2 linked regions of the Homo sapiens genome follow. The protein of the gene in region 1 purifies or fractionates together with the protein of each later gene. This does not show direct contact. Each region holds a gene or a part of one and is shown in the gene's direction. Other genes may lie near its edges.

What was found. Proteins that work in one complex are often made in the same cells at the same time.
Region 2: the proteins of CLPTM1L (region 1) and GPC6 purify together in Homo sapiens (co-immunoprecipitation; one large-scale study listed by IntAct). This does not show direct contact.

What each region holds. Positions count from the first base shown.
Region 1 is NC_000005.10:1,320,191-1,325,478, reverse strand, and holds part of CLPTM1L (lipid scramblase CLPTM1L), read left to right. Parts: intron 1-665; coding exon 666-716; intron 717-1,609; coding exon 1,610-1,692; intron 1,693-2,567; coding exon 2,568-2,602; intron 2,603-3,659; coding exon 3,660-3,715; intron 3,716-3,799; coding exon 3,800-3,844; intron 3,845-4,747; coding exon 4,748-4,863; intron 4,864-5,288. UniProt on the Homo sapiens protein: Scramblase that mediates the translocation of glucosaminylphosphatidylinositol (alpha-D-GlcN-(1-6)-(1,2-diacyl-sn-glycero-3-phospho)-1D-myo-inositol, GlcN-PI) across the endoplasmic reticulum (ER) membrane, from the cytosolic leaflet to the luminal leaflet of the ER membrane, where it participates in the biosynthesis of glycosylphosphatidylinositol (GPI).
Region 2 is NC_000013.11:94,401,892-94,406,685, forward strand, and holds part of GPC6 (glypican-6 precursor), read left to right. Parts: intron 1-1,123; coding exon 1,124-1,326; 3' UTR 1,327-4,794. UniProt on the Homo sapiens protein: Cell surface proteoglycan that bears heparan sulfate. Putative cell surface coreceptor for growth factors, extracellular matrix proteins, proteases and anti-proteases. Enhances migration and invasion of cancer cells through WNT5A signaling.

The sequences.
Region 1 (5,288 bases):
AGCACGTGTGCTTCGTTTTGGCACCTTGTCCAGAGGCGCTCCCGAGGCTGGTGCTGACTGGGGTCCGTACAGTCCTGGCAGTCCTGAAGTGAGTGAGCCCCTGCCCTGAGCTGGTGGCTGCCCCAGTGCCTGGGCGCCCATAAGGCCCCTAGGCAGATGAGGGCTGGGGCAGAGCTGGAGTTGAATCTCAGTGCCCACGGATGGACCTTGATTGAGGCGGGGCCCTCAGCAGTCACAGGCTGAGATTTTCCATGCTGTGGGCAGGGGGGTCAGGAAGCCCAGCACACGCAGCGCAGCCACTGTGTTCCACCTTGCCCCATGGCTCCCGGCCGGCTGGTTCGGAGCAGTGTTGGCTGTGCCTGTGTGCTCTGCAGTGTTCTCACTGAAGCGGTGGCACTGAAAACTGAGCCACCTGAGCAAGGAACAGCAGTGAGGCCGCGTTGCCCCCATCAGGCTTGTGGGACCCAGGGCCAGGGTGAGGCGGGAAGGATCCATGCGGATCCCCGTCCTCTGGGTCCTCTCCTCGCCTGGTAGGGACCTGAGCGCCCTCTGTAGTGAGGCCTGGGTCAGCTCTGCAGCCATATGTGACGCCCCTTAGTCACAGCTCAGCTGTGCTCAGATCCTCCCTGAGTCTATTAATATCACTGTGTTGAATTTCACAACAGTTTGGCACTTACAGCGAATCTGAGAGGAAAACCGAGGAGTACGATACTCAGGTAAGTCACTTGTGATTCAGGGCACGTGCATGCCAGGCAAATCCAACACCCTCAAAGACGGGTCTTTTACTGTCATTGCTCAGTGCGGAAGTCTCCTTGGAGTACGGGTCAGCCCGCCTTGAGCAGGGATCCCAAGAGTGAACACATAAAACCCAAATTTCTTACTGGGAAGGGCGGGGGCTCGCAGAGACTCATTTCCCAGTCCTTACAGGCACAGCCTGCCTGTGTCACCGTATAGTAGGGATATTTTCATCGTTTGTAAGTCACATTCGCCAGGCAGCTGACGCAGGCCATGGTGTCTGCTGTGGTTGCTGGGAACGCACTTGCCGTCACCAAGGCCATAATGGCCGCGGCCGCACAGTGGCCTGGAGGAATGGCCCCAGCAGCACAGGGCGTCACCTTTCCCCATTGCTGTTGGGGGAGCTGGAATTCTCAGTTCCAGTTAATAGAACATTTCTGCACAGATGATTTTAGTTTGGTTTAATCTTCACCAGCTTATATCCAACTTGCATGGCGTTGTAAAGCTGAAATCAGAATGGATACAGCTGGCGATGTAACTACATTACTTAGTAGGCAGTTTTTTCCGGTTTCTTTCCATTATGTTTATTGATCTGTTGTGGGTTGGTTGGTTTTGACCAACCAGAATTGATCTATTATTGTTAACTAGCGCCTGTAGTTACACCCGGGCTCTGGCGTGTGCGGTGCCTCCTGGGGCTGTGGCGAGTGTGCGATGCCCTGCCTGTGCCCCTCACGCCGCCCCCTGCAGAGCAGCCCTGCCACCCTGAGCGCTGTAGCTCGTTCTGTCTGTCCCTGTCGGGGTGAGCTCCATGCAGTGTGTTTACAGAGGCTTGGCGTTTGGGCCTCTAACTGGAAGCCATCTTTGTTCCCTGCAGGCCATGAAGTACTTGTCATACCTGCTGTACCCTCTCTGTGTCGGGGGTGCTGTCTATTCACTCCTGAATATCAAATATAAGAGGTAGGAGGCCGCACACGCTTCCCCTGCTGCGTCTTTCCCCTGAGAAAGCCATTTGGATGACTGAGCCAGAGCGGGGTGCGACTGGAGGGCAAACTCGGGGCCGGGGCACTTGGGCCAGCGCCTGGGAGGGGTCCTGCCCCTGCAGCTGCACACGGTGGGCTCTGGGCCTCAGTGTCCCCCTGGTAAGGTGTAGCTGAGAGGACTGACTCCAGCCACCAGGCTTCATGGGAGGCTTGGGCCTGAGCTGAGAGGGGTCCTGGAGCCCCTGGCCTCTGCTGCCCGTGTGGGGTGCTGGCCCTGAGCTGAGAGGGTTCCCGGAGCCCCCGGCCTCTGCTGCCTGGGTGGGGTGTTGGCCCTGAGCCGAGAGGGGTCCTGGAGCCTCCAGCCTCTGCTGCCCGGGTGGGGTGCTGGCCCTGAGCCAAGAGGGATCCCGGAGCCCCCAGCCTCTGTTGCCCAGGTGGGCTGCTGGCCCTGAGCCAAGAGGGATCCCGGAGCCTCCAGCCTCTGCTGCCCAGGTGGGGTGCTGGCCCTGAGCTGAGGGGTTCCTGGAGTGCCCGGCCTCTGCTGCCCGGGCAGGGTGCTGGCCCTGAGCTGAGAGGGGTCCTGGAGCCCCTGGCCTCTGCTGCCCAGGTGGGGTGCTGGCCCTGAGCTGAGGGGTTCCTGGAGTGCCCGGCCTCTGCTGCCCGGCCGGGGGTGCTCAGCGCTATCTCCAGCTTGAGAACCAGGCTCAGCACTGCTGCTCTTGGCTGCCGAGCTGCCGTGAGAGCATCTGGGTATTTTCAGAGGATTTTTAATGAAAGAATTATTTTTCATCAATTTAATACAGATATTAAGCTATGCGAGAAATAGGACTTCTCCTTTTTTTTCCGTTTCAGCTGGTACTCCTGGTTAATCAACAGCTTCGTCAACGGTGAGTCCATGTGCTTCCCTGCTTCAGTACTAGTGTTTCCAGCAGGCAGCGATTTAATTGTTCTTGCATTGAAACCCAGTGTGGCAAGCCCCCCTGTGATTTGAGGCTAATCCCTCCCCACCCTGTTCTGGCACATGTGCGGTGCCCAGGGCTCCCCCCAGGCTGTGAGCAGATAAAGCCCTGCGTGGCTTCACAACAGTGACTGGTTCTGAGAAACAGGTCCTTGTACAAGCGACAGGGAGTGCTCACACCAGATGTGGCAGCCCCTCCACGCCAGGCTGTGTGGTGCAGCCGCCTGGTATATGTGTCCATCGCTGATGAAAACAGCATTGTGTGGTGCATGACTGTTGTCTGTTTTCTTCATGGAAACAAGGAAACCTAAGCATTAAAACAACACCATCCACGTCTGGTTCCTTAGAGCAAATGGAAGCACCAGGCTCTGGTGCACGGCGCGCCCCCTCCTGCAGATGCAGTGTGGGGACCCTGCAGGGCCCTGTGCTCGGGGCCACATGTCCTGGGAGGCCCGCCTGCCCCAGGTGGCACCTTCAGCTGCATGGGCTGCTGTGTCCATCCCCCAGCCCCACCAGACCAGCCCTGATCGCAGCTTTGTGGTCTCTTTGGGAAGTGGTCCCGTGAGCATTAAGGGCGAGGGCCTGTCTGGTGCAGAGCAGGTGGGTCCCGCACTGCCGTCCTCCCTGGTAGGAGTCCCACACCTGACCCCTGGGGCAGGACCTTGTGGGTCAGGAGGCCGTGTCCTCATAGCCCCAGGGTGCTCCAGTGCTCTCACTGACTTGACCCCGTGGGCAGCAGTTACACTGATTAATAAATAGAAGAGCTTTGCTCTCCAAAGTTGTCGTAGACTCTTGATAAACTTACCAGCCAGAAAGCTGCTTCACACCATGATGGACTCTGAAGTTGTCTGGATAGCAGACCTTGTTTTCTGCCCACTATGCATAGACGTGGCAGCTCGGCCCTCCACACCTCGTGAGTGCCGTCTGTGCGTAGATGTGGCAGCCCGGCCCTCCGCACCTCGTGAGTGCTGTCTGTCTTTCTGCAGGGGTCTATGCCTTTGGTTTCCTCTTCATGCTGCCCCAGCTCTTTGTGAACTACAAGGTAAGGCGGTGTGTGCTGCCCGCGGCCCGGCCCCCGTCTCCTGTGCTGCCCACAGCTGACCTGGGCCTGTCTCTCCTGTTTCAGTTGAAGTCAGTGGCACATCTGCCCTGGAAGGCCTTCACCTACAAGGTGAGTGTGACAGCCGGTGAGGAATCCCTTCTCACTGAGCAGAGCGTGAGCAAGGGCGTCTTCCAGCCAACAGCATTACTGGGGCCATCTCTGCCCAGAGTGCATCTGCACCTGTCCCTTTCATTGAAGAATATTGAGGAGGCTCCTTTAAAAAAAAAAGCGAAGAGCTATAGAGTAACTTCAGACCCTGAAAGACTGGGGTGGTTCTCTCACTTGTCACAGATTTGGTTTTCTTTTTCTTTTTTAGTGTTTATGTTTCTTCTTAGCACATGTGTCAAGACACAGACCCCCTGTGGCTCAGTAACCGGTGCCTGGGGACAACGGATTCAGGCCTCCCAGGCAGGAATGGAAGCCCCCATGGGCCGTGGCCATTCCCCGCTGGCAGAGCTGTGGAGGCCCCCTTGGCTCCGTGTGGGATTAGAAGTGCCTCGGCATTGCAGGCGGAGCTGAGTTAATGGGACATGATTTGCACTTTTCTGAAGTCAATTACAAGCTCCCAGAGGAAAGGGCAATGCTCAGGTGGCTCTGCCCTTGGCTCTCCCCTTGGCTGTGGTCTCGGGCGGCTCTAACCTTGGCTCTGGTCTCAGGTGGCTCTGCCCTTGGCTCTGTCTCGGGCGGCTCCAGCCTTGGCTCTGGTTTCAGGCCATTCTCTTTGGGTTCCCCGATGTGGGAGCCTGGGCAAGACCCGCAGTGTGTCGGGTGCCAGCAGCTGTGGGGAGCCCATGAGGGAACAGAGCTCCGTATCTCCACTTGCCGGCTTTCTGCTCTTTTTGTTGTTGCTGTGAGGAGTTCCAGTTAGTTCCAAGCATCTGCCAAAAGCCGTTGGCTTGGTTAGGTTACCAAAAACAGTAGGATTCCAGCCCCAGCAACTGGGGTTCACCCTCCTCCCGTCTGGCCCTGCAGGCTTTCAACACCTTCATTGATGACGTCTTTGCCTTCATCATCACCATGCCCACGTCTCACCGGCTGGCCTGCTTCCGGGACGACGTGGTGTTTCTGGTCTACCTGTACCAGCGGTGGTGAGTGCGGCTGCGTATGCTCGGCCGTTGCTCCGTCTCAGCGGCGTGGCTGCTGCTGAACGGAATGACGGCTTTCACCGCACCCTGCGCCTGTTTATCCATTTGAGGGAAAAGATAATTTGCAGGTGGTGGTTTTTCCTGTCTTGCCTAAACTTGGGTTCCAGTTGCCCATGATATGTCCTGGCAAGAAACTGTTCCAGCTCTGTCTCCTCACTGTGCTTTAGAAATGCTCGTTTCTATGTGAATTATTGATGAGCCACTGAAAGCAAATGTCTCTCCTTAAGCGATTTATTTACCTATTCACAGTCATTGCTATTGAGCAGAACAGAGACCGTAGCATGGCTAATCCATACTTGGCGCTAGCCTCGAAGTGTCCAGCCAGCAGTGTGGACCTGCAGGGCACAATGTCACTGGGGAGCTCACTC
Region 2 (4,794 bases), on another chromosome or scaffold:
ACTACACTCCAGCCTGGGCAACAGAGCCAGACCCTATGATTGATTGATTGATTGATAGATAGATAGATAGATAGATAGATAATAGACTTTATGGATATCTATAAAATATATACTTTTATGTAAATAAACCATTTTGGAGTTATGGACCATACAAAAGCAAGCAGCAGGTCATAGTTTGTCAACTTCTGGTTTAAAGGGACAAGCTGGCTGGGACAGAGTCCAGCCTTGCTCTCAGGAGAACACAGGTGGGGAAAAGGTGGACAAAAGTCATATTGATAGAGACCTCTCACTACTATTGCTGCTGCTCCTCTCATTTCCTATTTGTAGAACTTGTTTTCCTCTATTTTTCTTTTAAAATCCTTTAAAAAGCATGGTATCTTCCTAGAGCAATGGCTCTGAGTATAAAAAGAGCAAAGAATGGAATTTCTTAAACTTAAGTACTGGCCAGAAGAAATGTCTAAGGCCAACATGGTAGGTGTGGCCTCCCCTTGAGTCTGGGGTTCACACATTCCTTGGGTTGCATAACTCAGGTATCAGTTGATATTGTTCTTCAAACACCTATTTCTGTACAGTCCACCCACTCATCACACCACTGCCTATTAAAAACAATCCTGTTGGGTAGGGTGGGGGACCATGGATGGGGAGATTTTGCCTCCCACCACCATGCCCCATATCTGCTGAGCTCTGTTTCCACTCTTTCCTGGTTGGTTGTATTAGTCCGTTTTCATACTGCTATAAAGAACTGCCCGAGACTGGGTAATTTATAAAGGAAAGTGGTTAATTAACTCACAGTTCAGCATGGCTGGGGAGGCCTCAGGAAAATTACAATCATGGTGGAAGGCGAAGGGGAAGCAAAAGACCTTCTTCACAAGGTGACAGGAAAGAGAAGTGCCAAGCCGTGGGGGAAGAGCCCCTTAAAAAACCATCAGATCTCGTGAGAACTCACTCACTATCACGAGAACAGGATGGGGGAAACCACCACCATGATTGAATTACCTCCACATGGCCTCTCCCCTGACAGGTGGGGATTATGGGGATTACAATTCAAGATGAGATTTGGGTGGGGCCACAAAGCCTAAACATATCAGTGGTCTAACTTTCTTTTTCAATCTTTCCACACTAGGTGATGAATCCAGTGGCTCAGGGAGTGGCAGTGGGTGCATGGATGACGTGTGTCCCACGGAGTTTGAGTTTGTCACCACAGAGGCCCCCGCAGTGGATCCCGACCGGAGAGAGGTGGACTCTTCTGCAGCCCAGCGTGGCCACTCCCTGCTCTCCTGGTCTCTCACCTGCATTGTCCTGGCACTGCAGAGACTGTGCAGATAATCTTGGGTTTTTGGTCAGATGAAACTGCATTTTAGCTATCTGAATGGCCAACTCACTTCTTTTCTTACACTCTTGGACAATGGACCATGCCACAAAAACTTACCGTTTTCTATGAGAAGAGAGCAGTAATGCAATCTGCCTCCCTTTTTGTTTTCCCAAAGAGTACCGGGTGCCAGACTGAACTGCTTCCTCTTTCCTTCAGCTATCTGTGGGGACCTTGTTTATTCTAGAGAGAATTCTTACTCAAATTTTTCGTACCAGGAGATTTTCTTACCTTCATTTGCTTTTATGCTGCAGAAGTAAAGGAATCTCACGTTGTGAGGGTTTTTTTTTTCTCATTTAAAATAAAAAAGGAAGAAAGAAAATAATTTTCCTTGTAAAATCGGGCCAAACCCCAAGACAGCTACATTTTCAACAAAAAAGCAAACAGAGAAAAATAAATGAACTTTAACACTGTAAGTTCAGCATTGACAGCCAACTTCCAGTGTAAGCTTTTTTGTGACAAATCCGGGTTTAAAAATGCTTATGGGGAGAAAGCTTAAAGTTTGTTCTAAATGTAGTGAAAATGCACTGTTGTCTTGGAGGTATCATCTTGCACTCTAACCAAACAACACCAAATTAATCTGGAGGTACTGATACTAAATTTGGAATCCCGTCTTTAATATGAGAACACAAATTACTACAACTCAGTACCTCTGTCTTACTCTGCCCAATTTCAATTTAGTAATGGCACCATTATTCTTAATTCCCTTAATGTCTGTCCGCTGTATCCAATTGGCACAGATTTTCCCCTTCATCTTCAATTACTAGTAGCTACCCCCATCAATTCACCTTCCTCAAGAGTCTCAATTGAAAATAATCTTTGATGATACAATCTCTGCTTTTGCCACAGGTTTGACATTAACTAGACGTTTCTGCCCCTGTGCTCATTACCCTCCCAAAACAATAGTTTTTTTAATGAATTGAAACACAATTAGATCCATTCCTGAGTTTTCATTTTTAACTATTTACTTTGTGTCAGTTGGTTTCTGCATCACAAGGGCATTCTCTTACAAAACAACTCACAACAGAAAAAAAAAGTCAAGACAAAAAATATATATATATAGTATTGACATGGAGATTTCTTTCACTTTTTTAGTCTTAGTATGATCATCTATTTTTATATCTATGTATATATAAATCACAGATTTTAACTTCTTAATTCCAAGCTCAGGGTTGACACACCTTTGTAAGAAAATGTTTTGTCAACCAGCTCTTCTTGTTTTGTGCTGCTCAAAGAAGGGATTCCTCAGTGATCGGTGAGCACCAAGAATCAAGAAAGAGAACTTTTTATGTATCTAACTGTCCATTTATTAAAAATTTGCCAGGGCACACCCTTCTGCATGAGTGTGCTTCAGCCTGGGTGCTCCAGACTACACCAAACTCATGGGATGAGCCATTGGTGTGCAGGGCTTTACCGGTGATGGAAACTGTATGTGTAAAGAATGTTATTCATGAAAAACCATTGCTTTCATGTAAAACACCTTCGGCCTAGGATTCCTGCCTGGCACTTGGATACATTACCTAACTCAATAGGCCAGTTTAGAGCCACAGCCTAACCTGTTCACCAAGTAGGCCAAAGCCAGGCCTTTCGCTCCCCCTGACAGAGAGAAGCAAAATAAACCCAACTGGGGGCTTTATGAATACAGTTGGCTATCCATATGTTTCTTAGTTTTTATGATGCATCTGGAGTAGGGAAAAGTAATGTTTCAAGACACCATAGTAGGCCAGTTACATTTTAATTAACTCATCGACAGTATTGACACGTAAATGGTATTTTTCAATCTGTTCTCATCAAAATTAAAATTAGTTATTGATTTAGTCATCACATTTAAGTAGAACACATGTGGCACAATAGTATTAAGTATATTTGAGCACTTTTGCAAGACAGAAAGTATTTACAAGCATCTATTGCTACTTTATGCCTAATGAAATATAAAATGTAGGATGATGAGAGACTTTGTGGCATTCTTTCATTTAAACCTTTATGAAATTAACCATCTAGTTCATCATTACATACTCCTAGAAAACCATCCATTTCACTGCCCACATTTTGGCTTCCTACCACAAATTCCACATAAGACTTCTCTATGAAGGACCAGTCATTTACATTGCTCATTTCATTCTGTGTTCAGAAGTCAGTATTGTCTTTCTCCAATAATTAAGGTGCAATACAAATTAAATCAACCTTGATTTTCCAGACTATTTGAATAATAACTTGCTTTTATGGCTTTAAACTCCAGGTCTTTCCTTTTTAAAATATTTCTGCATTCTCTTTTATGAACTAGATCAGGATGCCTTGTTTTTCCTGTGCTTTCACCCCCAAAAGGTTTTGTGCATGTGTATGAATACACATAATATTAGTGAATGTGAACCCATGTTCTATACGCACTAAACACACAGTTAATATATAAACGCCTGCTTCATTTGTTTCAACACCTTCATTATCAATATGATTCATATTGATGAGATATAGTGATGCATAATGAGCCAGGCAGAGAGCTGAAATGATATCAGTTAATGATGTCACAGTGTTAGCACCCTGCATGGATGTGGTCAAAATATCATTCAAGTTGTACTTCCTAGTTTTTATCATCATACTACTATGTCATATGATTTTCAGACTAATTTAACATGAGAAATGTTTTGGCCCTAAAGGATTTCACTTAACCTAGTTACCCTATTTCAGTAAGTATTTTGGAATTCAACCCTCGAATTATTTTTTCTCATTTCAGCATAGTGATAGGGGATGCAATGAGGCTTCATTATTTTTTATGACCTGCCCCTCATTTGCTCTGATGTTCCCTAAATTCTGTAATCATATCATAACTTTTGTTATGAATAGAGAGGAATGGGCTCACTGAAACCTGACACTAGAAATTGGTGGGTGATGCTCATAACTGCAAACACTTAGCTTATTGAAGTGCCTCTATTTACATGTTCTTTAGTTATAATATGTATTTTTCTAACAGAAATACACGTCTGTAATTGGTATATATTATACTTTGTATGTGTCACAACAAAAGCTAAACAGAGGCTAAAGTCTTTAGCAGAGAAGAATGAATTACAAATTTACCAATAAGAGCTCTGTTTATGGTTCTGTATTGAAGGACAACCATGACAACCTTCTGTCATTTTCACGAAGGCCAAGTTGGTACTTTGATTATAGCCATCGTAGAACATTAGCACTAGAAATCTGTCTCCCTTACAATGACTTACCTAGCTAGCATCAAGTAACTTGTATCACCTGCTTTAAATGTAAGGGATAGAAAATACTATTTTGTCTACACTGAAAAACATTATTATTCATTGATAAGTAGTAATAATTATAAAAGTAACATTCTTTAAAGCAAACACATTGAAAATATTATTACAGGCAGAACCCTGATTTTTAATTTATATTCCCTGCTGCAGACATTAGCCTTCTTT